Linked DNA regions of Homo sapiens. The protein of the gene in region 1 interacts with the protein of each later gene in a biochemical or structural test. Each region holds a gene or a part of one and is shown in the gene's direction. Other genes may lie near its edges. The genes, in order: POLA1, HELB and RBMS1.

Region 1 (11,061 bases):
CAGCCTCCCCAGTAGCTGGGGTGTGTGCCACCACGCTCAGCTAATTTTTGTATTTTTAGTAGAGACAGGGTTTCACCAGGTTGGCCAGGCTAGTCTCAAACTCCTGACTTCAGGTGATCCACCGGCCTCGGCTTCTCAAATTGCTGGGATTACAGATGTGAGCTGCCACGCACAGCCCAGAGATGTATTTTTGAAGGTCAATCCTCATAAGGAGGTCCCCTGAGTAGGGAAGGTGTGTCTGTGAGATTGGGGTCTGGGAGTGCCAAGTGCTGGCTGGTTCTAGGGAAAGCTTCTTTGGGTTACCCTCCTCGGTCCCAGGGTCCAAGGTCCTGTCTTCAGTGTTGTGGGTATTGACTGGATTTCCTTAGGACACCCAGAGATGGTCTCTTGAGTTTCAGGAGAGTTGCGTGTCTTCTCTTATTACCCAGAATCTTTGTGGGATGCTGAGAGCATATCCAGGCCCTCTCACTGCTGGCCTCTTTTCAGCTAGCAGACAATCCTCTCTCCACAGCTACATATAAACAACACTACCTCGTTGGGCTCAGAATCTTTGGATGGCCACAAAGCCGATCTTCATACCCACAGACAATCAGGCTCAAAGGCCAGATTCATGCTAACAAACGCACATGGATATTGAAACCAGAGTGCTACTTTACTGCTTTGCCATGAGAAATACACCTGGCAGATGTGCCAGAATATAATCCAGTTGGCTGGTTTTCCCCCAGTTTAGGGGAAAAAAAATCTAGTTTACCAGAAGCAAGATTGCTTGACGAGTAGAAAATCATTGCAAGGGAAGTTGTTTTTGCTCACTGTCTTATCCCTAGGGCCTTGAATAGTGCCAGAAAATAGTAGGCACTCAATAAACATTTGTTAAATGAATGATTTTCGTCAACGTTTTCATGTGTTTAACTGTTACTGCTATTGAGAGAAGATACTCATTTAGGTCAGGCGTGGTGGCTCACGCCTGTAATCCCAGCACTTTGGGAGGCTGAGGCGGGTGGATCATCTGAGGTCAGGAGTTCGAGACCAGCCTCGCCACCATGGTGAAACCCCATCTCTACTAAAAATACAAAAAAAATTAGCCAGGCATGGTGGTGCACGCCTGTAATCCCACCTACTTGGGAGGCTAAGACAGGAGAATTGCTTGAACCTGGGAGGCAGAGGCTGCAGTGAGCCGAAATCGCACCACTGCACTCCAGCCTGGGCAACAGAGCAAGACTCTGTCTCAAAAAAAAAAAAAAAAAAGATACAATACTCATTCATCAGAGACAGACAATGGAAAAAAAAAGTTCCTGCTTTGGAGTTAGACAAATAAGAGGCTTGATCTCCATCTGCTACTTACTTTTTGAGTTTCCATTTCTTCATAAATAAAGTATAATTTATAGAATTAGGTCTACTGAATACAATAGAAAAAATAAAAAACAGTGGCTTTAAATATGACAGATGTTTACTTTTCTCTCATGTAGAAGTCTGGGGGTAGACAGCTCAGGGATGGTATGGTGACTTAATGGATGTTAGGGACCCAGGCTCTTATTCTGTTCCACCATCTCACTGTGGGGACTTTCATTTCCACAGTTATCTCGTGATACAAGACGGCTGCTGGAGCTTAAACCATCACATCTGTGTTGCAGGAAGAAAGAGAAAAGAGAAAAAGCAGAAAGGCAAAAAAGAGTCCCCTTTCAGATCTACCAGAATACTTTTTTTTTTTTTTTTTAACTTTTAGGTTCAGGTACATGTGCAGATTTGTTATATGGGTAAGTAGCATGTCACGGGGGCTTGGTGTACAGATTATTTCATCATCCAGGTAATAAGCATAGTACTTCATAGGTAGTTTTTGATCCTCACCCTCTACCACACCCCACCCTCAGTTGGTGCCAGTAACTGTTGTTCCCTTCTTTGTGTCCATTTGTACTCAATGTTTACCTCCCACTTATAAGTGAGAACATGTGGTATTTGGTTTTCTGTTCCTATGTTAGTTCGCTTAGGATAATGGCTTCCAACTCCATCCATGTTGCTGCAGACGTGATCTCATTCTTTTTTTTTTTTTTTTTTTTGAGACAGAGTCGTGCTCTGTCGCCCAGGCTGGAGTGCAGTGGTGCGATCTCGGCTCACTGCAACCTCTGCCTCCTGGGTTGAAGTGACTCTCCTGGTTCAGCCTCCTGAGTAGCTAGGATTATAGGTGCCCGCCACCATGCCTGGCTAATTTTTGTATTTTTAGTAGAGATGGGGTTTTGCCATGTTGGCCAGGCTGATCTCGAACTCCTGACCTCAGGTGATCTGCCCACCCAGAGTGGCCTCCCAAAGTGTTTGGAATACAGGCGTGAGCCACTGCACCTGGTTTCTTTTTTATGGCTGTAAATTAGTTCCACCATTGTGGAAGACAGTGTGGTGATTCACATAAAAGTAGAAGTCTAAGAATCAAACCCTAAGTCTGACTCTACCTGAGTCTTTAATCCTTCCAATATAATATTAAAGAGGACAAATTATAAACAAAAAGAGTCTATAATTCTATCATCCTGGCAAAATATACTCCATTTTGCATATTGCTTTCAGGTAAATAACTGTTTGATATATCATTGCAAATAAGTGTGGGTATGTATCACTTTGCCCTCTGTGGTTTTCACTTTCTGAAATATCATAAACATTTTTCATATTTTGAGTCTTTCTAATCATTTTATCTTTTTGATGTCACAACATTAAACCTTTGTTATGATGTGGACTTTTAGGTCCCAACTTTTTGCTAATGGAAAACAGCAGCCATTAACGTCTTTGCATTTTTTGTTTCTATTATTTCTTATTAAACTTTTACCTGTGGAAATAAAGGGTTGAAAGATACAAGTATGTTTACGGTACTTGTCACATATTGCAATATTATTTTCCAAAAGATTGTGCCAACTTACACTGCCACCTGTAATAAATGAGTTGTGCCTCAACACTGTAAGCTTACCAGCAATGGATAACATTTATATATAGAGAAATGTACAGATAAAAAGGGGGAAAATGGTGGAACATAGTATCTCAGTCTCAGTTTGCTTTACTTTGTTTATAAGTTAAAAAAAAACCTTTAAACTTGCAAAACTGGTCCTGGACAGGAGAGAGGAAGTTTAAGACAAATTATGATTTTTTTGCATGATTAGATAACAGAGGTAGGTTTACAGTAAAGCTGCTGAAACTTAATCTCCAGGGCCTCTCATTTGCATATTGGCCACTTGCAAGGCTCTGGGAGATGTTCTAGCAATGGTTTTATGTTTTTGTAAACATTTGCAAAAGTAAGATATTTCATTTTATTTATTTGTTTATTTTAAGATAGTATTTGTCATATTTATTTGCTCCATTTATTCTAAAACAACCCTGGCTCCCTCCTTCATTCCCATCTAATCTACCCCAATCCTTTTTATTAATATTATTACTTAATTAATTGTTTATGTGAATGAGTTCTTTAGTGGTGATTTCTGAGATTTTGTTGCACCTATCACCTGAGCAGTGTACACTGTACCCAATGTGTAGTCTTTTATCCCTCACCTCCTTCTCACCTTTCCCAGAGTCCCCATTGTATCATTCTTATGATACAATGAGTCCATTGTATCATTCGTATGCCTTCGGATACTTGTAGCTTAGTTCCCACTTACGAGTAACACACAATGTTTGGCTTTCCATTCCTGAGTTACTTCACTTAGAATAATGGTCTCCAATTCCATCCAGGTTGCTGCGAATGTCTTTATTTCATTCCTTTTTACTGCTGAGTAGTATTCCATGGTGTGTGTGTGTGTGTGTGTGTGTGTGTGTGTGTGTGTGAGATATATACACACACACATATGTATATATACACATATCTCACTTTTTTTAACCTACTTGTTGATTAATGGGCATTTGGGCTGGTTCCATATATTTGCAATTATAAATTGTGCTGCTGTAAACATGCGCGTGCAAGTATCTATCATGTATAATGACTTCTTTTCCTCTGGGTAGATACCCAGGAGTGGGATTGCTGGATCAAATGGTAGATCTACAAAAGTAAGATATTTTAGCTGCAATCAGATATGACTACTTTCCACTTGGTGGTTTGCTGGTAAACCTTAAAAAAATAAAAAGCTCTGATTTGTACCACTTGCCAATTTCCAGGGTGTAAATATTCCCACCATGACTGATTTCAAGCTACCAACAGTTTAACATGGAGATTACAAAATACTGGAATATTTAACAATCAGCTCTTGAGAACCTCCAACTGTCCCTCTGATACACTTCGCTTCTTGCATAGTAGCAGTGAAATAGGCATAGGCATTTTGGGATTCCACTATGGGGAAATGGAGTTGATATTGCATTTAGTTTGGGCTTATTTCTTCTATTTATGTGGGTCGAAGGCACTTAACCCACATATATACTTAAGCCATATATACTTAAGTTATTGATAGACTTTTTTTTTTTTTTGAGACAGAGTCTCACTCTGTCACCCAGGCTGGAGTGCACTGGCACAATCTCGGCTCACTGCAACCTCTGCCTCCCGGGTTCAAGCTATTCTTCTGCCTCAGCCTCCCAAGTAGCTGGGACTACAGGCGCCTGTCACCACACCCGGCTAATTTTTGTATTTTTGGTAGAGATGGGGTTTCATCATATTGGTCAGGTTGGTCTTGAACTCCTGACCTCATGATCTGTCAGCTTCGGCCTGCCAAAGTGCTGGGATTACTGGCGTGAGCCACAGCGCCGGGCTGTTATTCATAGACTTCTTGGTGTAGGAATAGCTTCCAGGAATATTTCTACCCCAGTGTGATGACTTACCAGGAGTTTTGAACTGAAAGTGTAGGGCCAGAAGACATATCATGGTATGAAAGTGTCTGGCCTGGCATGGTGGCTCACACCTGTAATCCCAGCACTTTGGGAGGCTGAGATGAGTGGATCACCTGAGGTCAGGAGTTCAAGACCAGCCTGGACAACATGGTGAAACCCCATCTCTACTAAAAATACAAAAATTAGCCAGGTGTGGTGGCGGGCGCCTGTAATCCCAGCTACTCGGGAGGCTGAGGCAGTAGAGTCGCTTGAACCTGGGAGGTGGAGGTTGCAGTGAGCCGAGATGGTGCCACTGCATTCCAGCCTGGATGACAGAGCGAGACTCCATCTCAAAAAGAGAAAGTGTCCTACAGGTCTTTTCCCACAAAGTATGTGGGTCATTGTCTCAGTCTGTTCAGGCTGCTATAACAAAATACCACAAACTGGGTGGCTAATAAACAACAGGAATTTATTTTTCACAGTGCTGTAGGCTGGGAATTCCAAGATCAAGGTGCCGGCAGATTCAGTGTTTGGGGTAGGCCCACTTTTTGGTCCATAGATGGTGCCTTATTGCTCTGTTCTCACATGGAAGAAGGGGCAAGGCAGCTCTCTGGAGCCTCTTTTCCGAGGGCACTAATCCTATTCATGAGGGAGGGTTCCTGCTGATGACCTAATCACCTCCCAGAGGCCCTACCTCCTAACACCACCACACTGGTGATTAGGTTTCAACGCATACATTTTATGTGGAGAGAAACATTCAGACCACAGCAGTAGTGAAAGAGAAAAGAGGTTTGAAATGCCTAGAGTTATACCCGGGCATGTGGGAAGTAATCAGCTGTGAAATTGTTAAGGTAAGGATTTGGTTCTTATTAATGACTAGCCAACATGGTTCTCTCCTGGTTGGAAAAAGCTTGATAATAAAACTATAAAACTTCCATCAGTTTTTAAAAGGGAAGTGTAGGAATAAATCTGTCGTAGTACTTTAAATAGGAAGTTATGTCTAAGTGTAAATTACTACATGTTATGTATCACAACATATGGATCACATAACATGATATTAAATGATTATGAAGCTGAAAGACATTTTCTAAACAATCAGAAATTAAGAAACAAGTATTGATCAACCATGCTAGAAGACAGATTGAATTATCTTTATATCCTCTTTGGAGAAAATATTACAAAATTGTTGTCACATGAAGAAGGGATCAATAAGCATGTGGGCAATAATGTAGGAAAAAATACAAATGTGTGGCAGGCATTATTTAATAAAAATGTTATACCTTTTTGGAAAGAGATAACATGAGATGTACACATTACAGCCATTGTATCATACACAAAAATTGAATACCCTTTTTGTTTTTCATAACATTGAAATTTTGGAGTTCACGTCAGGTGTTTTGTAGATTGTCCTACATTTTGAATACATCTGATTGTTTCTTCATGGTTAGATTCAGGTTAGACATTTTTTGCAAGAAGACCATATAGGCGAAGTTTTTCCTTTTTCATACGCATTACATCAGGAGGCATATGAGATCAGATGGCCATTTATTGGTAATGCTACTTCTGGTTATTTGGTTAAGACGGAGCATATATCTTTAAGTTGTTAATCACACAGCCACTGTATCCAGACTGCTGAGAAGCAAACTATCAGGCAAAATTCAGGGCGCGCAGCAGGAGGCAGTCGCTTTCCCGGCTCTGGGGAAAACGATCCAACCACGCCCACTCTCCTGCCCGCCCGCGCCTCCTTTCCGGGAAAATGGGCTCTGAGAACCAGAGCGCCCTTTCTCCCACGCGCCCAAATCTTTTCCCATCAGCATGCGTGCGCTTGCGCAGTCTCCAGGCGGCTCCTTTCCAGCGCCCGACCGCTTCTTTCTCCTGCTCTCCTCCGGCTTCCCCTCAGCTCTAGCTTTTCCCTAAGGGGTCATCACAGGGCGCCAAACGCGCGTCCGCGGGAAGGCCGGGGGCGGAGCGCGGCGCGGCGCGGCACGTCAGTGGCCTTCCGGCCGGAAGTCCGCAGCCTCCCGAGCCGCTGATTGGCTTTCAGGCTGGCGCCTGTCTCGGCCCCCGCGCCAGTTTTGGGCTGGTTGGCGCGGAATCGGGAGATTCGGGACCATGGCACCTGTGCACGGCGACGACTGTGAGATAGGGGCGAGTGGTGAGGGACAATTCCGCGCGCGGGGCTCCGGGTTGGGACAGTGGCATGATTGCCGGTGGTGGGGGTTCTGAGGGAGGCGCACACCCGGGTTTGTTTGGGCGCAGACCTTGGTCGTCCCCGGCGGGGGCCCTTCTGGCGTCGGACCGGGCTTCCTTTAGGCGCGGTTTGCTCTTGGAGGACCAGAGCCTGGAGGGATTTTTGTTTGGGAGGCTGTCTCACCTCTGCCACTGAGAGTCTCCACAGTCGATTGCGTTTCTATTTCTTTTGGTGAGTTGCACCCACGTGCTGGGTATAACTTTATTGAGACTGGCCCCGTGGGGCCGAAAGTATTTCACTGCGATCTCCCTAAGTATCCACTTGAAGGCTTGAACAGAACAGATCTGTGTCCCTTTTTGTAGGAACTTCCAGGAAAATTTTATACATTGTAACTAAGCAGGAAAGAAAGCTCTAAGTGCTGTCATCGGGGAATAACGCGTTTTGTATTTTTAGGTAATGGGTTTCTACTTTATGCATTAACAATTTTTCTTTCAGATTCTTTGGAAAGTTCTTCAAGTGCTGCGTAGAAATCCTGTTCACAATCTAGTCATTCCTGGTGAAGTTTCAAAAAAATGGCATCAATTTAGGGCATTTCGGATCCCCTGTATATCACTCCGTTTGTCAGGGGTGTCTTTTATTTCCAAAAATAGAATACAAAAATGCAAATAGATTTGTCTGATTTTTTAAGTGTTCAACTAAAGCGTGACTTCAGTTAACTTCTAACTTAAAATCAGATGCTTCACTTTGTTAGCTCAAGCGTCACCTCTCCTGTCATTCAGATACATCACCATTAATGAGAACTCGCTTCCTAATCAGCTTCCTTTGCATTCACCTAGTTGTGAGTCACAGATTTCAATTTGTTCTAGCCGTTCGTTTTTTAAGACTATTTTGGAGAGTCGACCTGCCTGGATTACAGATAGGATGTTGGGTGTAAGTATGTGAACGAACAGTCTTTGCAGGCCTCTATCAGTGATTTGCCACTAAGCCCTTTCTTCATCCTAAAAACTACGTCATCTATGAACATCAGGAAATCACTTTGGAGGATACTGTGCAATCTTGAGACTCCTCTTAGGTCATGGTGTTCATTAAGTAGTTGCTGGGGACTTGTGACTGGAATTTTTCCTTTAGAGCAGACTGAAGGATTGTTACCTGAAAGACTGCTGTAAGCTAGTGTCTGTCTGCTTTTGGGGAGGATAGAGATACTCCAGATGGTAATTTTGAAACAAATATTTAAACCTTTGTAGCTGGATTTTTTTCATGCTTATTCTTTTTTTGCTAAGTTACCTACGTGAAGCATTGGAGACATACTCCAAAAAACAAAATGTAGGCTTTTTTTTTTCTTCAGTATTAGCAGGCAGGGCACCTTGATAATGGCAGTGAAAAGTTGAAAGGTCTGTAACTAGCTGTTACTATATATGAAAAAAGATCAGGGAATTTTTATTTATTTATTTATTTTTGAGACAAAGCTTCCCTCTTGTTGCCCAGACTGGAGTGCAGTGACGTGATCTCAGCTGGCTGCAACCTCTGCCTCCTGGGTTCAAGCAGTTCTGCCTCAGCCTCCCGAGTTGCTGGGATTACAGGTGCCCACCACCACACCGGCTAATTTTTTGTATTTTCAGTAGAGACAGGGTTTCACCATGTTGGCCAGGCTGGTCTTGAACTCCTGATGTCAGGTGATCCACCTGTCTCTTCCTCCCAAAGTGATGAGATTACAGGCATGAGCCACTGCGCCCGGCCAGGGAAAGTTTAATGATCAAAAAAGCAGGTACAGTGGTTCATTCATTGGTTCATTCAGCAAATATTTATTATATACCTACTAGGTATAAGCCTTCTGCCAGGCTCTGGCATTATGATGGTGGGTAGGCTGGACATGGTTTGTCTTCATGAAGTACAGATGGTAAACATCTAATCATATGCAGAAAACGGCTTTGCTTTGTTTTTGCCTTCTAAAGCTAGACCTTGGTACTCTTAGGTATGGTGTGTGTGGGGTATGTGGATGTGTGTTTGACTTCACACGCGGAAGCGTTACATGAGCCGCTCCTATATTGCTAAGTGCAAAGTAAGATAGGCATCTTCATGTAATCCTTAACAGATTTTGAAGCAGACATGATTATCCCCATTTCACAGATGTGGACCCTGAGGCTCTGCATCAGTCAGAGCCCCTATCTGTAAGCTGCAGGAACCAACTCTACCAGATTGGTTAGAATTTGTTAGAAGAATATTGTGTTCACAGAAACTCCAGGAGGACTAGTAAGCCAGTCTGGGAGCTGTTTAGCCAGGAACAGTGAGTGAAATTGTGCCACAAAAATGGGCCAGTGAGGAGGTCATTGCCAACCACGAGCAAGTACTTGATGCTATAGCTCATACCTTAGGACATTGCTGACATTGTTGCCGGTTTTGTAATCCTTCTGCAGCTGTTGCTACTTGTAGAATCTTTTAAAACCCATGCCCCCTTCCTTGTGACACTAGCTTCTGATTTAATGTCTGAGCAGGTGTTCCTAATCGGTAGCGCCTATTTTATATGCCCATGCTCTAGGCTGCAAGGGTGTCTGGGAAAGAGCATCAACCTTTTCAGCTTCTGTAATGGGGCATAGGCTCTGCGTCTCATCAAGACTTATAAGGGATGGGGGCCGGATTTCACAAACAGTTTCAGATGCTAGGCTGCTTTAAATAACAAGACACCTGTCTGCTGCTTAACTGGTTAACCGGTGTTCTCATGTCACCCAGTAAATGGCAGAGCTGGAATGTGCTGCTTCTCCCTAACCTGGTTCTCCTACTCACTCTACACTCCCTTGTCGAATTTACCTTGCACACTGAGTTCTCTCAGTTTCTGAATACACTATGCATTTTCATCCCTTTGTAATTTGGCTCATGCCTCTTCTTTTGCTTGTGCCACTTTTTACTTTGTTCTCTGTGAAATTTGACTCCTTTTTCTAGGCCTGTATTGGAAACCTCTCCTGTGAAGCCTTCCTTGATTTTCCAGGCAAAATTAACAGCTCTCTCCTCTGTACATTTCCTCAGTACTGAGTTCTTACCTTTTCTATGGCACCATGTTTATATTGTGATGGTAATTTCAGGTACTTTGCTTTACTTGACTGGGGGCCTCTTTTGGACAGGCAGCTCTGTCTTATTTGTGATTGTACCCTAAACCCTGTGTAGTGGAACATTGTTGCCTGTGTAGTGGGACGTTGCCTGTGTAGTGGAACATTGTTGCCTGTGTAGTGGAACATTGTTGCCTATGGAGTAAGTGCATTTGAAGACCTACAGATGTCAGGCATCAAGGGAGTCTTGAGGGGAATCGCTTTTCACTTTCAGGGGTCATGTTCAGTAATCTTCAAAGCCTTTTCATGTAGGCCTGTTCACGATTTTTGAAATCATTTGAGTGACATCCAAGTTTTTGTGGCTGTCATCATTAAGTACCTTTATTCCTTAATTTTTACTTAATGTCTTTCTGAAAATGGATTTAAAAGTCAAATGTGAAAGTCAAACAATAGAGTGTGATATTATAAAGAGAGATTCCATTTCTAGAAAGCTAGAAAAAAATAAGATCTCTAATTATGCCTTACCTTTAGGCTATAGTTTCCAGCAGTTTATTGCCAGCATTTGGTACATGTTCTTTAAATTGTATCTTCTATTTCAGTCAAACACTTAGTCAAGCAGCTTAATGTTGTTATGAACATTCTAGTGGGGTTGGAGTTTTAGGCTGCCTCTTATCCATACTTCTTTTCTTTGCCTGCTCCTTTTTATAAATTAATTAGCACCAAACACAGTAAAATACTAGATTTCACAGACATAGATGGCAATCATGCTGAGCCTAAACTCGTAGTTGACAGGCAGCACTGTTATGCTTGACTTAGTTTTTCATCAGTGGGTATGTGAAAGTCTTTAATTCTGTGGATGAATTTTTTTTTTTTTTTTTGAGATAGAGTCTCGCTCTGTCACCCAGGCTGGAGTGCAGTGGTGCAATCTCGGCTCACTGCAACCTCCATCTCCTGGGTTTAAGGGATTCTCCTGCCTCAGCCTCCTAAGCAGTTGGGATTACAGGTGCCTGCCATCACACCCAGCTAATTTTTGTATTTTTAGTAGAGTTGGGGTTTCACCATGTT
Region 2 (10,034 bases), on another chromosome or scaffold:
GGTCATGATGAATTTCAAATAGATGGGGAAGTACAATGCTACTGTGTGTCTAGAAAGAGGAGAATTCACTATCAGTGGATACTAGTACTACATGCTGTTTGTATGTATGTCTGTTGACTGAATGTAATCTAACATGTCTTTATTATAATTTCTACTCTGTATGTAATTGCATCTCTATGGTACTGTGTTATTGACTCATTTGTTGTCTTAACTCTGTCATACCACTTTGGATCCCACTTTTATAAACAAAACAGACAAAATACTAGTTTAAACATTTACCAGGATAAATTAATATGTAGCGCTTTCAATATAACTGTGAAACTGTCATTATCACAACTGCACCTTAATTGCATCCTTTGCCTCATCACAGTAATTAAACAGATTACTAAATCTTATTCCCTCCCCATTCCCCCAATACAATGTTTAGGTTTTGCTAATGATCACTTCACATTGTGCTAATTGCCTTGATGCCAGCCAGGCACATTAAAACAAATATATTTCTGACATGACTAGAAAACACATTATGTAACACAGGAAAAAAATCTTCCAAGTGAGAAGCATTATGTATGAGATACTGAAAGGTATTGCTTCATGATTCAGATTAATTGATTTATTTAATAACAATTTCCTAGGATAACTTTCAAGGGGACATTGCAATGAAAGTTTAGTTTATGGGAGATGAATAGCCACGTTTTCAGAAAAGAATGGTTAAGCTTCTGTTTAAAACCTCTAGTGGCATCTTGCTGACCTTGCCGTGGCCTCCTGAAACACTGCAAGTTCTGGCTGCCACCCACTTCCTACCAGCCTCATCTCACACCCATTCCTTATACCTTCAACTTCAACTTCACTGACTGGCCACCAGCAATCCTGGAATCCCCAATTTTTTCTCTATGACATTGATGTTTTGGAATATCCAGGTCAGTTGTCTTGTAGAATGTCCCATATTCTAGATCCGGTGTGGGAAAACTACAGCCTGTTTTTGTACAGCCGTAGAGCTAAGAATAGTCTTTACATATTTAAAGGGTTATAAAAAAAGAAGAGGGAGAAGAGAAGGAAGGAGGAGGTGGAGGAGTATTATGTGATGGAGACCATATATAGCATGCAAAGCCTGAAATATTTACTATCTGTCCCTTTGCAAAATGAAGTTTTGTCACCTCTGTTCTAGATCTTTCTGTTTCCTTATGGTATCATTCAGTTGGTACCTCACTTCCTTGGATTTGGGGCAAATTGGAAATTCGGTCTACAACTGTGCTGTCTAATATGGTAGTCACTAGACACATGGATTTCGAGTCCTTGAAATATGACTAGTTCAAATCGAAGTGTGCAGTAAGGGTAAAATACAGACCAGATTTTAAAGACTTAGGATAAAAAAAAAAGAATGTAAAATATTTTGTTAATAATTTTTATATTGATTACCATGTTGAAATACTATTTTGGATATTTTGGATTAAATAAAATGCATCATTAAAATGTCACCTATTTCTTTTTTCAATGTGGCCACTAGAAACTTTTAAATTACATATGTGGTCATATGATATATATCTCTATTGAACAGTACTGGTCTAGAGCCTTGATTAAAATCAGGTTAAATACTTTTGGTAAGAATACTTAATAGCTAATTTTATGTATATCTTATTGCGTCATAGCATGAAATACACATCAATTGTGTCCCATTATTGACACTGTGTTTGATAACTTGATTAAAGGGTGAGTGACAAGTATCTTCACTGTATAGGTACACTTTTCCCTTTGCAATTCGTAATCTATTACTGCCAGGAGACTATCAGTTCCCCAGTGATGTTCATATCCTTTGGTGATACTTGCTTGAATCAGTCGTTACTTTAGGGGGTTGGAAAATGCTGGTTTCTATTTTTATAATTTCTTCTTAAAAATTCTTATTAACTGGCATTTCTCTCTCTCTTTTTTTAACTATCACAATTAACATGTGAATTTTTATTTACTCAGCATGTTATAATCAAGTGCAGTCACTATTCCTTTTGATACTATAATTTTCCTTTTTTTTTTTTCATTGCAGTGACACCATCTTGCCTCACTGCAACCTCCACATCCCCAGTTCAAGCAATTGTCCTGCCTTAGCCTCCCAAGTAGCTGGAATTACAGGCACGCACCACCTTGCCCGGCTAATTTTTATCTTTCTAGTAGAGACAGGGTTTCCATGTTAGCCAGACTGGTTTCGAACTCCTGATCTCAAATCATCTGCCCACCTCGGCCTCCCAAAGTGCTGGGATTACACGCGTGAGCCACCACACCCGGCTGGTCCTTGCTTTTGAAAACAAAAAGTCACCCAGATTAAAAAACCAAGATTAGGCTGGGTGCAGTGGCCTGTAATCTCAGCACTTTGGGCAGGGGGAGGCAGAAAGATCACTTGAGGCCAGGAGTTCAAGGTCACAGTGAGCTATGATTGTGAGACTGAATTCTAGCACAACCCTGTCTAACAAACAAACAAACAGAAAATTGAGATGGTGGGTGTGATCAGAGTTACTGGGGTTACATTGCTTTCAGGTTCTTTTGGCACACAGAACTAGATAATACATTTTAAGAAATCACAAGCCCATATTGATATTTTCAATTCCAGTTTAATGTTGTAGGAGCTTTTTTCAACTTATTTTATTTTACATTTGTATTTCTTTCCATGTACATTTAAAACTTTTAATAAAATATGAATACATTTACTTATTTTCTTTATCCTACAATATATAATTTCAAAATTACACTAACAATATTACAACAAACATTAACCATAATGAGTGAAGTTTAAGATCATTTTTTAGATCTTTTGTCTGCAGAGTATAACCTACCAGGGGTGTACAGTTAGAATAACTTAAAATATTTACCCAAAGTATTGAAACATAACTTGAAATGATTATTTTCTCTTAGTGGTTATGCAATTCACTTGATAGATTTGTTTGTTTCTGTTTGTGTTCAATTTTCTGTTTTGCTTTTGTTTCTTTTATTTTTTGAATGTGTACAACATTTACATGATTCAGAAGTCAAACTACATAATAAATTAATCTCAGAGCTCTTGTCCGTATCCCCTTTCTGTCCTATCATGTTTCCATCTCCTCTGTGGGTAACTATTTTCATCAATTTCTTCCCCCTCCACCTCCCCCTCCTCCTCCTCCTTCTCCTCCTTCACCTTCTTCTGGCTCACTGCAGCCTCAACCTCCTGGGCTCATGCAATCCTCTCACATCAGCCTCCAGGGTAGCTGGACTACAGGCACACGCCACTGTGTCTGGCTAATTTATTTATTTTTTTGAGACAAGGTCTTGCTATTTTGCCCAACCTGGTCTGAAACTCCTGGGCTCAAGCAATCCTCCTACCCTGGCCTCTCAAAGTGCTGGAATTAGAGGCACGAGCCACCATTCCTGGCTATTTTCATTAACTTGTGGTTTATCTTTCATGTGATTTTTTTTTTTTTCGTAACACTGACACATACAAATAAAATGATATGCATTGTTTTACATCTTGCTTTCTCTAATTTAAAACAGTATCTTGGAAACTACTCCCTACCAATTTGTGGCAATCTTTCTTTCTTTTTATAAAAAAAATAGCTGAAGAATACTCCATTGTGTGGATGTACTACAGTTTATTTCATTAGTCTCTTGCTGTTCAACATCTCTGCTATTTCCAATAATTTGCTATTACAAAAATCACACAGTAGATAACCTATGTCTATGTTGTTTTTTGTTTTGGGAAGTGTAGCTTCAGGGTAGATCCAGGTATCTCAATTTTAGAACACATCCCAAGTGATTTTGATGCACAGCCAGATTTGAGTACCACTGCTTACTATGTATGGTAAAGATGGTATCCAGAAAGCCAGAATTGTTAACTTTTTTTTTAAAAGAATGAGAAAACAATAGGTAAAGAAGTAAGATTCTTATCATCCTAAATTCCTATCTACACTATCCAATAAAATGCAATTGAACTATATGAATAGAAGCTGAACATATAGTGACCAGGTGCAATGGCTCACGCCTGTAATCCCAGCACTTTGGGAGGCCGAGGCCGGCAGATTACTTGAGTTCAGGAGTTCGACACCAGTCTGGACACCATGGCGAAACCCTGTTTCTACAAAAAATTGCAAAAAATTAGCCGGGCTTAGTGGTGTGAGCCTGTGGTCCCAGCTACTTGAGAGGCTGATATGGGACGATCACTTGAGCCTGCTGGGAGGTCAAGGCCTCAGTGAGCTGAGATGGTGCCACTATAGACCTGTACCAAAAAAAAAAAAAAAAAAAAGGGAGGAGGAGTTGAACACCTGTGCTGTGTAGTGGCTCACATCTGTAATCCTAGCACCTTGGTAGACTGAGGCAGGAGGATCACTTGACTTTAGGAGTTCAAGACCAGCTTGAGCAACACAATGAGACCTTGTCCCCCCACCCCCCAAAAAAAAAGAGAGAAAGAAAAAAAAGTTTAACATCTAGAGATCTAGAGTTGATTCTTGTGCCCAAGTCATCATGTTGGTAACAAGAATATCCCATGTATATACTCATAAGTGACCCAGATTTGGGAAGCCAATGATAAGTTGCAGTTTAGATATGCTGAGTCTTAAGTAGCCAAGGGGCATCCAGTAGTGACTGACAGTGTTTAGGCAGTTGTTTGTATGGTTTGGAGATCAGATTAGGCTGAGTCATTAGCATGTAGGTGAAGGATGATTGAGGAAAGGATTATAGAGCAAGAAGATGCTTGGGATGGAGCCTTGGGGAATAACAGTACTTACAGGCAAGCAGAGGGGTCCAAGACTGTAAATAGCCAGAAAGGAGAAAAATCTGAGAAGGCAAGCTGCAAAAGCCCCGGCAGCAGAATGCTACAAGAAGAAAATACTTATCAGTATCAAATACTGCTGAGAGGTCAGGTAAAACAAAGGCTGAAAAGTATCCACTGGTTTTTGAAACGAAGAGGACAGTAAGTGTGACATTTGTCAGAGGAGATTCAATGTTGTGGTGGAAACAGTAGCCATGTGAATGTCAAAGGAATTCAACCTCATATAGCCAATCCTTGGAAACACTGGTGTTTTGTCAGCTGCAACAGTATTTCTTTTAAAAGCAACAAAAGTGGGCATTTTTCAATTGGTACCCAAAGGAAAAGAAATCAATTTTTATATTTTCTCCTATACATTTTTCTTAAATATTTGGTGCTAGTTGTCGTTTATATATATTTAAATATAGCATCAGGTGCTTTTGGATTTAGTAAATAGTGTGTGTTTAGTTATTTCAGGAATAATCCCAAAATAAACAGTATCAATACAGTAATGTAGTAATATATTTATGGTATTTCTTAAATAGTACCAAGACTTTCAAGTACCATCCTCATCAAGTAAGAGAATCATAGCCCCATAATAGTTTTTAAAACCACGTTCCTTTCTCTTCTATTTCCCTTCTCCTATTCCTGTCTATACTCTGGGCTGCAAAGAGACACTTTTGCCCCACTGTCAGCAGGTAGCAGCCCAGCTTAAATAAGTTTGGGAGACCAGGGTGTACTCACAGAGGAAAGGATAAAAATAACTTTGAATGTTATCTAATCCAGTGGTGTCCAAACCTAGCTGAGCATCAAAATGGACAGCCCGGAATGTACATTAAAAAGACAGAATTCTAGGTCCCTGCCCTAGATCCGATTCCAGAAGGGCATCTGCTATACTTTCGTTTTGGGAAGGTTGGGGTGGGGGTTGCTTTTCCAGGTTCTTCAAGCTCAGCAGAAGTGGACTTTCTCCCCGTTCTCTCTCCGCAGGAGATGCCGTGCACTGGCGGTTCTGCAGGTGCCACGCCTGTCACTCCCCAGCGCTGATTTCGTCCCAGCACCTTCCTGATAATCACCGCCCAGCACCAGGCTCCAAAAGGAGCGGAAGCCCCGCCCATCTCCCAGCCCCTCGCTCTCCCTTCCCCGCCCCTAACCCGCCTTGCCCCGCCCCTTCCACATGCCCTCCCCTCGGCAATTCCTGGAAACTTGGGGCGGAGCTTCGCTGCCTTTCAGGTTTTATGTACGCTGGCGGCCGCCAGGCCGTTCCCGGAAGTTGATGGCCTTACAGTCGTAGAACTGATTGGCTGATCATGACCATGCAGTTAGCCAGGGTTTTCCCGAGTTGTTTGGGTTGAGTTCAGGAGAAGCATGGCCAGGTCGAGTCCGTACCTGCGCCAACTTCAGGGACCTCTGCTCCCACCCAGGGATCTGGTGGAGGAGGACGACGACTACCTAAACGACGACGTGGAGGAGGATGAAGAGTCCGTGTTCATCGACGCCGAGGAGCTCTGCAGTGGGGGCGTAAAGGCTGGCAGCCTCCCCGGGTGCCTCCGCGGTGAGGAAGGCGTCTGCCCGGGGGATGGGGTTGGAGGGTCCAAAGTAGCGCTTCCCATTCTGGCTTTGCCCTGAGCAAGGCACCCAGTCGTGCTAACAGATTTAGCTTATCAGTGGTCTAGCTGCTTCATCCTACCAAGGGTAAAATTATGACTATAATAATAGCAGTGACTTTAACTGGACACATACTATGTGGTTTTTTTTTTTTTTTCTTTTTTTGAGCAGCAGCAAGATTTATTGCAAAGAGCGAAAGAACAAAGCTTCTACAGTGTGGAAGGGGACCCGAGCGGGTTGCCCTTTTTTTTTTTTTTTTTTTTTAAAATTATTCTCATTTTAATGGTCGTCCTTTAATTTAATGTACCTTTAATGTAAGGTAGTTTTACGCTTAAGGAAACAGTGGATGTTGAGTCTCTATTTCCACCCAGAATCGGAACTTTTATTTTTCCTTCTGACCACTTATCCTCAAGTTCTATAGAATGAGAACTTGTAATTATTATCCTATATTGCCTGGAGTCAAATACGTGGTTCTTCCTCAGCTTCTTGGAAAAACAAAACAGTCCGGGCGCGGTGGCTCACGCACTTTGGGAGGCCGAGGCAGGTGGATCACTTGAGGTCAGGAGTTCGAGACCAGCCTGACCAACATGGTGAAACCTGTCTCTAGTAAAACAACAACAACAACAACAAAACTACAAAATTAGCCGGGCGTGATGTCGCACACCTGTAATCCTAGCTACTTGGGAGGCCGAGGCAGGAGAATTGCTTGAACCCAGGAGGTGGGGGTTGCAGTGAGCTGAGATCACACCATTGCACTCCGGCCTGGGCAACAAGAATGAAACTCCATCTCAAAAAACGAAAAGGAAAGAAAAGAAAAAGAAAAACGAAACACAAGGAACACCTCAGTGCACAGATGATTGTTAATTGGTGTTAGTAACCTTGTGGTTCGGGTAAACCTTGTATAAGTAGTTTCCTGTGCTATGAGGTAGTTTCCTGTGCTATAAGTTATACCTGTTATGTATACTTTGTGACTGAGACTTAAAATATTTTAATGTGCCGACCGGTGCTGTTCAGTAGAACTTTCCATGATCATGGCAGTGTTTTATATCTGCACTGTCTGGTATAATAGCCACTAGCCATATGTAGCTGTTTAGAACTTGAAATCCAGCTAGTGTAACTGAGGAGAGAAATTTTAAGTTTTATTACATTTTAATTTAAATAGCCACGTGGGTGGACAGCGCAGATTTAGGCAGAAAAGTTTCAAGTATTTGTGGAGGGCTTAGTCGTCATTCTAAAGTATCATCAACTGGCTAGCATGTTTGGTGCTGGGAAAACCTAGAGAAATAAAATAACAAGGTTGCAGTCTTAATGAAGCTTACCCTCTAGTGTATTAAACAAACATTCTTTAATCACAGAAGTAACTATAATGTTACTAAATGCTTAGAAGGAATGCTAAATAGTGCTTTGAGAGGTTTTATACATGAGATTCAGGGAAGACTTTTCTAAGTAAGTGATAGTTAAGCTGAGGTCTGTAGTAAATGTAGTAAACAGTAAAGGGGAGATCAGTTAAGGCAGATGGAATAACTTGAGTGAAGGGCCATGGCATTTTAAAGAAACTGCATGAAGGCCAGTATTGGCTGAAGTCAAGAGTAGCAGAGAGGGGACTGATTTTAGAAGAGGAACAGCAGACACCTGCTGTGTACTGTGCTTGCGTTTTGGAATACAAAGACAAACGAAACAGTGTCCTGTTTTAGTATTTACAGTGTAGTGGAGGGAGACAGAAAAAGAGGTAGGCAGAATGCAGTGTTACAGGCACCCTACCAGACATCTTTAGAGAGTGCTGTAGGGAGATTAAAGATAGTGGTAAGTTTGATGAAACTTTGAGGAAACGGTTTCTAAATAATCTCCAGAGTTAACTTTTGTGGGTTTTTGTTTGTTTTTTTTTAGTTTCTATTTGTGATGAAAACACACAAGAGACATGTAAAGTGTTTGGACGTTTTCCGATAACAGGTGCTTGGTGGAGAGTGAAGGTACAAGTAAAGCCTGTGGTGGGATCAAGGAGCTATCAATATCAAGTTCAAGGATTTCCGTCTTACTTTTTGCAGTCTGATATGTCACCACCAAATCAAAAACATATCTGTGCTCTCTTTCTTAAAGAGTGTGAGGTCTCCAGTGATGATGTTAATAAATTTTTAACATGGGTAAAGGAGGTATCAAACTACAAAAACCTAAACTTTGAAAATCTTAGGGAAACACTAAGAACTTTCCACAAGGAAACTGGAAGGAAAGATCAAAAGCAGCCTACACAGAATGGTCAGGAAGAGTTGTTCCTAGACAATGAGATGAGTCTTCCTCTGGAAAACACAAGTAAGTGTGATTTTTATCATCAACTTTCAGTGTAATTGACATACTTAATAACTACAGTGTTTAAAATGTTACCACTAGCATAGTATTCTTTTTAAAAATCCATTTGGTGAAAAATGTGTTTATGTTGCTTTTGGAGTATGCCATTGACATTTCAGGTTTCTCATCTGTAGCATGAAGGGATTATATGAGCTGATCTTTAAAATCTTCCAGTTCCTTTCCACCTCTAAAACTGTGATTTTAATCTCTCTTTCTAACTTTTGTATTCACAGCGATTACCTTGAATCATTAATAAAAAAAAATTCAGTTGCTGGCCAGGTGTGGTAGCTGCTCACGTCTGTAATCCCACTTTGGGAGACTGAGGCAGGAGGATCACTTGAGCGCAGGAGATCGAGACTAGCCTGAGCAATGTAGTGAGACCTTGTCTCTACAAAAAATTTTTTAAAAATTAGCCAGGTGTGGTGATATATACCTGTAGTCCCAGCTACTTGGGAGGATGAGGCAGGAGGATCACTTGAGCCTAGGAAATGGAGGCTGCAGTGAGCCATGATTGCACCACTGTACTCCAGCCTAGGTGAGAGTGAGACACCGTCTCAGTTAAAAAAAAAAAAAAATCAGTTGTAAATGATTCTGTTTAAAGAGGTAGAGAAGAACGACAAGGATGTGAATAATACATTTAGGAAATACTTCAGTCCAAAATGGTTTCAAGTAATTTTTAATATGATTTGTTATCTGGATATTCATATATATGGAATATTTCATTTCCTAATTGTATCAAATAAATTTGATGGTACATCAATGAATGATTTCAATGACAAAAGATTATGATTATAGAAAATGATTATGAAGGTTACTATGTAAATTATTTTATATCCTTAGCTTTAAATTTATCTTTATATAATTGAGTCAGAATTTTTATTCTGTTATAGTGCAGGCAGTAGGAAACAAAAGGCTAAGAAATCATTATTTAAGCATTTAAAGAACATAAATTTTGGTGTTAAACACAATGAAAACCATCTCAGTACAAAAGCAATTGTCATAATATGATCAAAATTTTCTTACTGGTTAAAGCAAGTGTACTAATCTGTTTTTGACTTGGGTTTCTTGAATCGGTTGTGCAAAATGAGAAAGTACTTCAAATCAGTCATTCTTTGGGTTCATTTATGTTTTACTTTGTTCCTTTCTGATATCTTGTAGTTCCATTTAGAAATGTAATGACAGCTTTGCAGTTTCCGAAGATAATGGAATTCCTTCCAGTTCTTCTGCCTCGACACTTTAAATGGATCATAGGGTCAGGTTCTAAAGAGATGTTGAAAGAGATAGAAGAGATTTTAGGTACACATCCGTGGAAACTTGGATTTAGTAA
Region 3 (10,129 bases), on another chromosome or scaffold:
GAAAACAAATACCTCTAAAAACAATGCTCTGTTCCATAAATGACTAAATGGGTTTTCATGAGATTAGGTACACTCTTTTCTCCATTAAACTGCAAGCCCCAGGGAGGCAAGGACCCTGTTTTATCTACCACTGTATCCCCAGCTCTTGTGTACTTGGCACATAGTGGACATTAAGTTAAAATTTTGATGGTTAAATAGACCAAAGAGAATTTTAAAGAGGAAAGCTGTTAGAATTTTATATTGCTTCACATGGAATATTGGGGTACTCCCATTTCCCTGAAACAAGCAGCCAGCAACTATCTCAGAAATGTGTCATTTTTACTGGTTATAATTCTTAAAAAGCTTGTTTTCCTAAGATATGAAATGCCTGCCAGTATACAAACTGTTGTAACTACTTCCCTTTTTGCTTTTAGCGGGGAAAAAATAGCTTAATGACAGCATAGAATCATGTAGTAAATATAATTCATTTTTTGAAAGGTTCAGCTATATCCTCTTCCATTTGTTTATTTTAAATGATCTAATTGCAAACATGTCATCACTCCCTTGATGTTTACCTCCTTGTTATGCATTTTTAGCAGGCTTTATTGTCACCTGAGATTTTTTTTTTCTTTGACAGGCTGGAGTCTAGATGAAGGAAAATGTGTTAGAAGCACCTTATCCACAGATGGGGACACTTGGTCATTCAGCACATGTTGAGCTTAGGCAGGCATCAGGGTCTGGCTGCTTACCTGCTTTTATTCACACCTGCCTGTTTAGGTGGCCTGCACTGAACTTCTAGAATGAGTCCAACCTGATCATTTACTGTCTCTGAAAGAAATTATGCTAATAGAGAAAAACGGCCAGTTGGGATCACTTGCTGAGCCAAGTAACTTCTTTAAAAAAAACAAAAAAAAGGTTAAATTTCAGTCTAGGACCTAGTTTTCATAAACCCTCTAGATAAAAGCACCTCGTTTTAGAGAAGACCCACTATGTACCAGCACCACCAAATTTATTATCTTCTCTCTTGCTCTACGAGATTATGTGGAGTCAACATCTTACAACCTCAAATGTCAGTGGATAAACCTCTCTAGATCTGGGCCAAGGCTTGCTGATAGTCTCACCAGACACCTAACATTTTTGTTCCTGACTCGTCATACCCATAGTCCAGTTGTCATTCAGAAGTGAGTTGGCATTCCAACCCATCCCTCCAGAGTGGTTCACACCAGGGAAAGAAGAAAGGAGTGCCAGGCAGCAGCCCAGACAGCTCACCCAGAAGGAGTTACAGTTGGGCTTTTTGTTTTCTTTTGTTTTGTTTTTTGGCAGAGAAGTGTTGAAAGACACTACTGCTTCCACCCTGTCATTAGTGGGTGGGTAATCATGAAATAAAATAAGAGATGAATTAGGATAATAAGAGGCACAGGAGAAAGGAGTAAATTTTCCACAAGTAATATTTTTCTCTTCGTGGTTATTTAACTTTGAAACAGAACTTGAAAGTAGTAATCATGGTTCTACAGTAGACAAAGGACAGAATGTGGGAACCAGACAGGAAGGTGTGATTGCCTTTATTACATTAACTAGAAACACAGAAAAATGCACAACTTTCTGGAATACACTGCTATTTCCATTGCAGAAAAGCAAAGAAAAGGAAAAGTTACTGGTGCCCTATTGTGCTGTCTGTAGACTTTTTTTTTTTTTTAACTCTAATGAGTATATATCTTTGAAAATATTCTCTACATCTTCTGCTTTTCTGTTTTGGCCTCATGGATTCTGTAAGAAGAATTTATATAAATGTATAGGTATATAGTAATATATATTATAAGTAATATAGTAATAATATACAGATCTATATATAGTGGTATATAGATATATAGTAAAGCAATACCCAGTTGTATGATTAAAGGCACAGAAAAACCTTTAAATAGGGTGGACAAGTATTTTTAGCTTTCTCACAACAGCCATCTTCACTGACGTATCCCAAAAATAAACATATGAGACCTATTTCTATTCATTCACTGATGCAACCAAGATGTAATAAGCAACTACAAAGTCCAGACACTTAGGCACTGGGGATACAGTGATAGACAAAACAGACAATGTTACTGCCCCCATGGGGCGTATAGCCTAGAAGGGGAAACAGACACCAAGCAAGTAAACATACTCACCAATTGTTACAAATTGTGAATAAAAATATATGTGCGAGCAGTGTAGAGGTGGCTTGTTTTCTACTGGGAGAAGTGAAGGGTCCCTCTTAGGAATTATAATGGGACGCTAAGGGACCATTTTAAGTTGGGGGAGGGGAGGATGGCACAATCCTATTGAATTTGAAGATTATTTTGGTGACGGTCCAGAGGTGGAATTGGAGAGGGCCCAAAACCAAAAGAAATGTGTCTACTCTTAAGTGTGAAAGTGAATCGAAAGATTCCTTTGCTTCCTCAGAATAGTTATTTAAATGTTCAGAAATAATAACTAGTATGTTTTTCTGCACTATGTTTTTCATCGTGGACAGTTTTACAAAGGTCTGAGTAAACTGCTTTTGCCTTAAAGTGTTGTATGAATTTTCTAATAGCGTGAACACTATTCCTATTTTTGTAATACATTTTGTCATCCACATACACGTATCATTGTGGTTTCATTTTATTTTTCTCTGTTTACTTAGCCCCCACAGAACCTTTATTGTGTAAGTTTGCTGATGGAGGACAGAAAAAGAGACAGAACCCAAACAAATACATCCCTAATGGAAGACCATGGCATAGAGAAGGAGAGGTGAGACTTGTAAGTCCTTTCTTGAAACTTTGCGGGGTGGGGGAGGGGGTGTGATCTTGAATGCCCACATGAAAAGTAACACAAAAAGGCATCTTGACTTGGCTGCACACTTCTGAAATAGGTGCCAGGATTAAATCTTCCTTTCGGTACATTATAATTCAAGTGATGCCAAATTAAAATTCTTTTCATTATATATGGTGATAACAGAGTGATTCTCCAGATGGACCGATAGGTGGTGGAAGCAGCTGTGTTTACCAGCTAGCTACACATGAAGTAAAAGAGCATTCTAAATTGCCATAAGAAAAACACAAGTGATTTGGGTTTGTTTTTGGTTTTTTTCAGAAACAGGGTTTCTGTAGGCTAGGCGCGGTGGCTCACACCTATAATCCTAGCACTTTGGGAGGCCAAGGCAGGCAGATCACCTGAGATCAGGAGTTAGAGATCAGCCTGGCCAACATGGCGAAACCCCGTCTCTACTAAAAATACAAAAATTAGCCCTGCGTGGTGGTCCATGCCTGTAATCCCAGCTACCTGGGAGGCTGAGGCAGGAGAATCGCTGCAGCCCGGGAGGCAGAGGCTGCAGTGTTCCAAGATCATGCCACTGCACTCCAGCCTGGGCAACAGAGCGAGACTCCATCTCAAAAAAAAAAAACAAAATAAAAAAAAAAAAAAAAGAAAGGAAGAAACATGGTCTCTGTTGCCCAGGCTGGAGTCCAGTGGTGTGGTTATAGCCTACCACAACCTTGAACTCCTGTGCTCAAGCAGTCCTCCCACCTCAGCCTCCTATGTAGCTGAGACGACAGGGACATGCCACCACTCCTGGCTAATTTTTAAAAATTTTTATTTTTTTATTTATTTTTTATTTTTGAGATGGAGTCTTGCTCTGTCGCTCAGGCTGGAGGGCAGTGGCACGATCTCCGCTCACTGCAAGCTCTGCCTCCTGGGTTCATGCCATTCTCCTGCCTCAGCCTCCCAAGTAGCTGGGACTACAGGCACCCACCACCATGCGCGGCTAATTTTTTGTATTTTTACTAGAGATGGGGTTTCACCGTGTTAGTCGGGATGGTCTCAATCTCCTGGCCTCATGATCCACCCACCTCAGCCTCCCAAAGTGCTGGGATTACAGGCGTGAACCATCGTGCTCGGCCTAATTTTTTAAAATTTTTATAGAGATAGGATCTAACTATGTTGCCCAGGCTAGCATGGTTTCTTAGAGGGGTTTATATTTATAATATTTAGAAGTTATCCTAAATAGTAATCTAAATATTTATATATAAATAGTACATTTATCACTGAGTTGGGGTTTTTTTCACCTCTCTTTTGAATAGTTTTTTTTTTAATTAAAACTCTCAATTTCGTAATAAAATGTTGGACGTCCATTTCCCTGTATTGACTTTCCATGAATTATTATTTTAAAAACAATAACATATTGATCCAAGAATGTCTAGGGAAAATGTTCTAGAATCTGCACTGTCCAATAACAGCCACCAGCCACAGGTGGCTCTCTGAGCACTTGAAACGTAGCTAGTATGCTAGAGAGATTGATTTTTTATGTAGTTTTAAATAGCTGCATGTGGCTTATGACTATCACATGGGACAGTGCAGGTCCAGAGATTAATTTTCATATTTATAGTCATTTTGACTAACAGAAACTCCCAATTTTATCAAATGCTACTAGACTCTAAGTACAAATTCCCCTCCCTCCCCTTTTTTTTTAAGAGACAGGGGTCTCCTTCTGTTGCCCAGGCTGGAGTGCAGTGATGTAATCATAGCTAACTACAGCCTCGAACTCCTGGGCTTCAAAAGGATCTTCCCACCTCAGCCTCCCCAGCAGCTGGGACTACAGGTGCACACCACCACACCTGGCTAAAAATAGAATTTTTAAATCATGCCTTTCTAGATGAATGTTTATATTTCTTTCTCTTTCCCATAGGCTGGAATGACACTTACTTACGACCCAACTACAGCTGCTATACAGAACGGGTATGTCGTTAAAATAAATCCATAATGGCTTGAGGGAAAATGTGAAGGTGGAAAATATCAGACATTTGTTCCATGAATTATTCTATTTAAAGGATTACTTAATAAAGGCTTTTGTGTTTGTTCTAGATTTTATCCTTCACCATACAGTATTGCTACAAACCGAATGATCACTCAAACTTCTATTACACCCTATATTGCATCTCCTGTATCTGCCTACCAGGTTTGTACCTTTAGGATTCGTCAGCAGTATAACCACTTGCGGACCATGAATCTCTGCTACATTTTTATGTGTCTTAAAATTTTGAGCGTTTATGAAATTTGAGTCAAATATTATGCAGCTTGGATACCCAATTTAGTATGAGCTGCTTTGTATTTGGCAGAGCAATTTATGTATAGGAGAATGTAAAGCAAAGGAAAATGTTTGTCAGTGGTCAGTCCTTGGAATCATAGCATTTTGGATTGGAATGAACCCAAACACTTCCTTCACCAAGGGGCCCTGCTTTTGGACACCATGTGTCCCAAAAATTGAAACTTAAGATAATTGCCGTTAGATATAATACAGAATAGGTGTGTACCCTTGCTTTTGTTTATTCTTCAGCAGGAACTGATAAAAGAACAAGTATAAACATGGTAATACATAAAGATGTGTCTCTAGTAGGTAGCATTAAGTGAGCAATGCAGCTGACATTTGAGGTAAAAATATAAAAGCAAAAAGGTGACTTCCTGTTTAGGTTAAGTGAGGAGGCTTTACCTTAAAATAAATTCCCAACTTAGCAACAAAAACTCTTGAAATGTCTTGTATTTCAAGATTTGATTTGATTTTAATGCAAAGGTAGCTCCTGTCCGCCATGAACCCAGTAGTGTACATGCATTTCTCCTCCTGTGTCAGAAAACCTCTAACAGGATTACTTCCTGGACCCAGATAGGAACCTTATAATGGAGTTCAGTTGCAGACATGTGGGAGCAGAGTTCCCTTTTGTTGACCATCAGGATCCTGTGTGACTAAATTTTTGTGTATTCTTGATTTTAAAACAATTGAATTAGATGTTGTAGTCCTAATTTCTGGGGTTAGAGGACTACAATATGTAATCTAATAGTTGTGTTATTTTAACTTCTATAAGCCTCAGTTTCCTCATCTTTAAAATGGGGATAATAATAGTTTCTATCTCATAGGCTTGAGAGAATTATGAAAACCAAATGAGACTGTATAAAGAGCCCAGCCAAGGACCTCACATATCATTATCACTCAGTTAATGTTAGCTATGATTATTATCATTAATATGCATGATTAGGTGGCTGATAATAAGAGTATATTAGTTATACGTTTAAATAATGAATTGGCCAACATAAGCAATGTCATATAACTAATTCTGCCTAAAAACATAAAAATGGTTTTGAATAACAGAAGTGATTAGATACGCTAAAACTGAGGATTGGCATTATCATTCACAGTCTCCTATGCTTCTAGGCTCTTACAGCCTCCTTTCCCTGAGTTGTCACTCGTTTTCTTTTCTTTTTTCTCTCTGGGTTCTTATGTTACTTATTCTGGTGCTTCATTCTGCTGGGCGTAGTATTGACTAATTTAATGCCTCTTTAGTTGTTTTGGATTTAGGATTCCTATCCTTTCTTTGACTGTATAAGACTCAGTGAGATCTGCTCTAGTGCACTTCCCTAATTAACAATTCATGTGTCTGCTATGAAAAGGTAGTCTTTCTTAACTGTCTGAACTTGGAAACCTCTGTCATTTATATGTCACTGAAAATAGGGGCAAGTGTAAGTTATTCTCAGGCAAATGAAAGGTTGTAAGTATTAATTTGAATTTATGTTGCTATAGATATTACAGCTATTAACACATTTCTCCAACACCTCTTTTTCCCTCTTATAATATAAAACCAGTGTGCATTTGGCCACAGAACCATTTTGTACAATAAAAATTAGGAGATCTGTGTCAGTAATAGATTTGATATAGCTAACTAGAAATAACATATTATTTCAGAGGCCTTATTTCCTCTCCTGGGCATTCTGTATTTCTCTAAGATACATATGGAATTTCATTGCATTGCCTGACACTCGGTGCCATAGCCTCAAAGACTGATTTTTAACTACATAAGTTCAGGGACCTAGTAGGGTCAGTGGATGAGCTTTAAGTGATCTGTGACTCCTTAAGTTGTTTGCAAAATGTTGCTTGTGTGTGTGCAATTAAGTGGGGAAAAATGTTCTATTTCCCTAATTAGGTTTTCAGAGGGCTCCATGACCCTAAAGAGGTTAAGAACCAATAGTAAAGAGTTTACAAAACATTATTATTCCCATTTTATAATTAGAAAATTGAGGAATAGAAATTGACAGCAGCTGATTTGCTGCTTAAGAAAGAAAATTAGATGTCATAGTTCCCTAATCCTGTAATGCTATAAGCTATTAGATTATTAAGACCACTGAAGCATATAAAAAATGGGGGCATCTGGCCCAAATTAGGGTCTGTAGGGAGTTGTTTGCCTTCCCATCATATATCCAGTGAGGGCCCTGCACTCATGTTGGAGTGGGCCTTTCTCCACTAAACCACCATAAGCTTATGCAATTGGATTTGAGAAATTGGCAGCTGCAAGAAACCACCAACCCCAATGGGGAAAGGCTACAGTCCAGATAACTGAAATGTTAACAAGGCAGAAGCACTTAACTTTGGTCTGCCTTAGGTGGCAAAGGAAACCAGAGAAAACAAGTATCGGGGCTCTGCTATCAAGGTAAATCGCAATACATTCTTCCCCCATGACTCTTCCCCATATCCTCTCTGTTGAACCTCTGAAGTTAACAATAGGGGATAAAATGCAGGAGGGTTTTGTTGTTAAGAATTGGAAACTGAAACTTAATAAAATTACTTAGACTCTGGAAAGCTCTGGGCATCAAGAAATGGGCTGATATGTTTTTCTCTTGAGTGGCAGACTACACATGCTTTCTTTCCTGCCACAAAACCTGACTCTCACATCTATTTCTCAATTCAGAGGGTCTACTGTGTGGATGCCCATTTGACTGTAGATGTCAAAATCTAGTTACTGAAGTTTAATTTCCTTAATCTGAATTTCAGATTTTTATTTTCTGCACTAAGTAGAAATTGTTGACCACAATACAAGATTTCTAAAATTAATGTCCTAGATATGAAAGAGAAATTGAATTTGGTTTTTTGTATTAAATAAGCACATACTTTAAGGGTTAGCTTCTAATAAGATGTGCTGGAATTAATCGTCATTCATCTGTAATTCTAAAGCACCTAGTTCATACCTTGATTGTTAACACTTTTCACTATTTGAGTTGTTGCTGTGTTTATCTCCCTTGCATAGATAGTAAATTTCTTGAGGGTGGGGCCCAGTCTGTTTCGCCTTTTTCTCTTTGTTGCCTGATACTCAACAATTACTTCTTGAGTGGGCAAATAGAAATTGTTTCTAAATAATCATTTCATCCTGTTCAGAGTGACCAGTTTGCCAAGAATTCTAACTGCCTTAATCTTTTTAATCATTGATAGTATTGTTTCCTTGTTTTCTTTCTGTAGATTTTTAACATGATTAAAAAGAGTTCTAAAGAAATAGGTAAGCTTTACAATGAAAATCAATATTTCTTTCAAAATCCTCCCTTTTCTAGGTGCAAAGTCCTTCGTGGATGCAACCTCAACCATATATTCTACAGCACCCTGTAAGTTTTTTATCTTAATGACTTTGTGTTTTACAAGTAAGTTATGTGTATATTCTCTCTAGGTTAAAACCATTTGCCAAGGGTGGTATAGGATTTGGGAAATTTTAAACATGGAATATGAGAATGTACAATTTCATTATAAAACTTCTTCTCATCCTTATAAAACAACTTGGTAGAAGATATTAAGTTACATTTTCTATAAGAACTTAAAATATATCATATTTGAGGCAGGGCACCATTTTCTTATTCATACCAGCTCTTTAGAGATCATTCAAATGAGAGGCTACATTTTTAATAGTACTTGGGATAAAACCGCTCTCATTTTTTACATTCTGTTTAATGCAGATATAAAGTTCAAAACCGAGATGAAGATTTTCATCAGTGTTACTTGGCCTTTCTATGGAGATTATAAATACTAAAGTGGTAGCACATTATTTGGTAAATAACAAATGTGATTTCTTAATGACGTGAGCATTCATATATATTACATTTTTTTAAATTGAATGAGTTATACTTATTATATAGTGTATTTCATGTGTTTTTCAAAGACACATAAGATCTAGTTTGTGGAAGAAGGGTTTGAAAATTTAAAAATACATATGGAGAACAAAGTTACAATAAGGCTAAGGATGTCCAACACAATGACCCTGCATGCTCACATGAGAAAATCACAAATTTGGCTCTAAGCTTTCTAGTAACTGATGCAAAATGGGAATCCTGGTAAGCAATACAGTTCACAATATGTGTAAAATAAAAACAGATTTGGTTGCTTAGAAAAAGAACTGTATTCTTGGCCTTATGTTCAGACAGCAATTTGTCTTCGGATACCTTTTAAAGTGGATACTGCGATGTAAGACCATGTATATGAAATAGCAATCCAGGGATAACAGGTTCTGAATGAGAAATTGCTGAGATGACCTTTAAGAAGCAGATAAAACATGTTTAGGTGATGAAATAGGAGAGGCGCGCTCTGATATATGTATACGTTTTGTGTGATATATACACATACATATAGATCTATACATGTGCACATACATAGACACATCTTCAAACCCACACTTACCTGTACATGTGTACATAATATACATGCACTGATCCACACATGCCCATAGCAATCTGTGTCCCTGATACTCCATGCTACCCTATTTTGGAATGCTTGGAAATCAGCTTGCTTTGAATTTGAGGACTTCCTATTACAGATGGTGCCAATGAATGAGAAAAAGGAGCAGGAAACTGCTCCACCATCTTCTAGGCTTCTGAGTCATTTCCGTGTTACCACTTGCTTTTTGATGATGCATGTTAAAAAAAAAATTTCTAACAGAATGTATTAATGACAAACATTATCTCTGACACACATCTATATCTTTTTTTCTTTTTGGCAACATTTGAGAAAAAGACTGCACGTATCTGAGCTTAACATCTTTGAGGAGACATTAGGAATGTAAGCAGAAGGTTGCTATCTGAGGATTCATTACCTTTCCCCACCCAGCTTTAAACTGCCTGATTTACATCAGAATTAAAGTTCCTGTACACCTAACTCTGTCCTAGATTGTCTATCTAATTATCAATAAATAACAGTTGTATTTAAGGGATGCCAGGTACAGTGATAACAAAACATACATTAGTAGTTACAGAGCGTGTCAGAATACTTGCATTCTCAGATAATGAGGTGATTGCAAAAGTCCAAAAATAAAGAGTTCATTGAATTTTGGTTTATACAATC

What was found.
Region 2: the proteins of POLA1 (region 1) and HELB form a complex in vitro, tested with the Homo sapiens proteins (one study listed by BioGRID).
Region 3: the proteins of POLA1 (region 1) and RBMS1 form a complex in vitro, tested with the Homo sapiens proteins (one study listed by BioGRID).

What each region holds. Positions count from the first base shown.
Region 1 is NC_000023.11:24,687,086-24,698,146, forward strand, and holds the start of POLA1 (DNA polymerase alpha catalytic subunit), read left to right. Parts: upstream 1-6,832; 5' UTR 6,833-6,876; coding exon 6,877-6,919; intron 6,920-11,061. UniProt on the Homo sapiens protein: Catalytic subunit of the DNA polymerase alpha complex (also known as the alpha DNA polymerase-primase complex) which plays an essential role in the initiation of DNA synthesis.
Region 2 is NC_000012.12:66,296,480-66,306,513, forward strand, and holds the start of HELB (DNA helicase B), read left to right. Parts: upstream 1-6,013; 5' UTR 6,014-6,124; coding exon 6,125-6,311; intron 6,312-8,251; coding exon 8,252-8,671; intron 8,672-9,865; coding exon 9,866-10,034.
Region 3 is NC_000002.12:160,279,591-160,289,719, reverse strand, and holds part of RBMS1 (RNA-binding motif, single-stranded-interacting protein 1), read left to right. Parts: intron 1-2,635; coding exon 2,636-2,751; intron 2,752-4,675; coding exon 4,676-4,725; intron 4,726-4,851; coding exon 4,852-4,945; intron 4,946-7,415; coding exon of another isoform or gene 7,416-7,463; intron 7,464-8,355; coding exon 8,356-8,406; intron 8,407-10,129.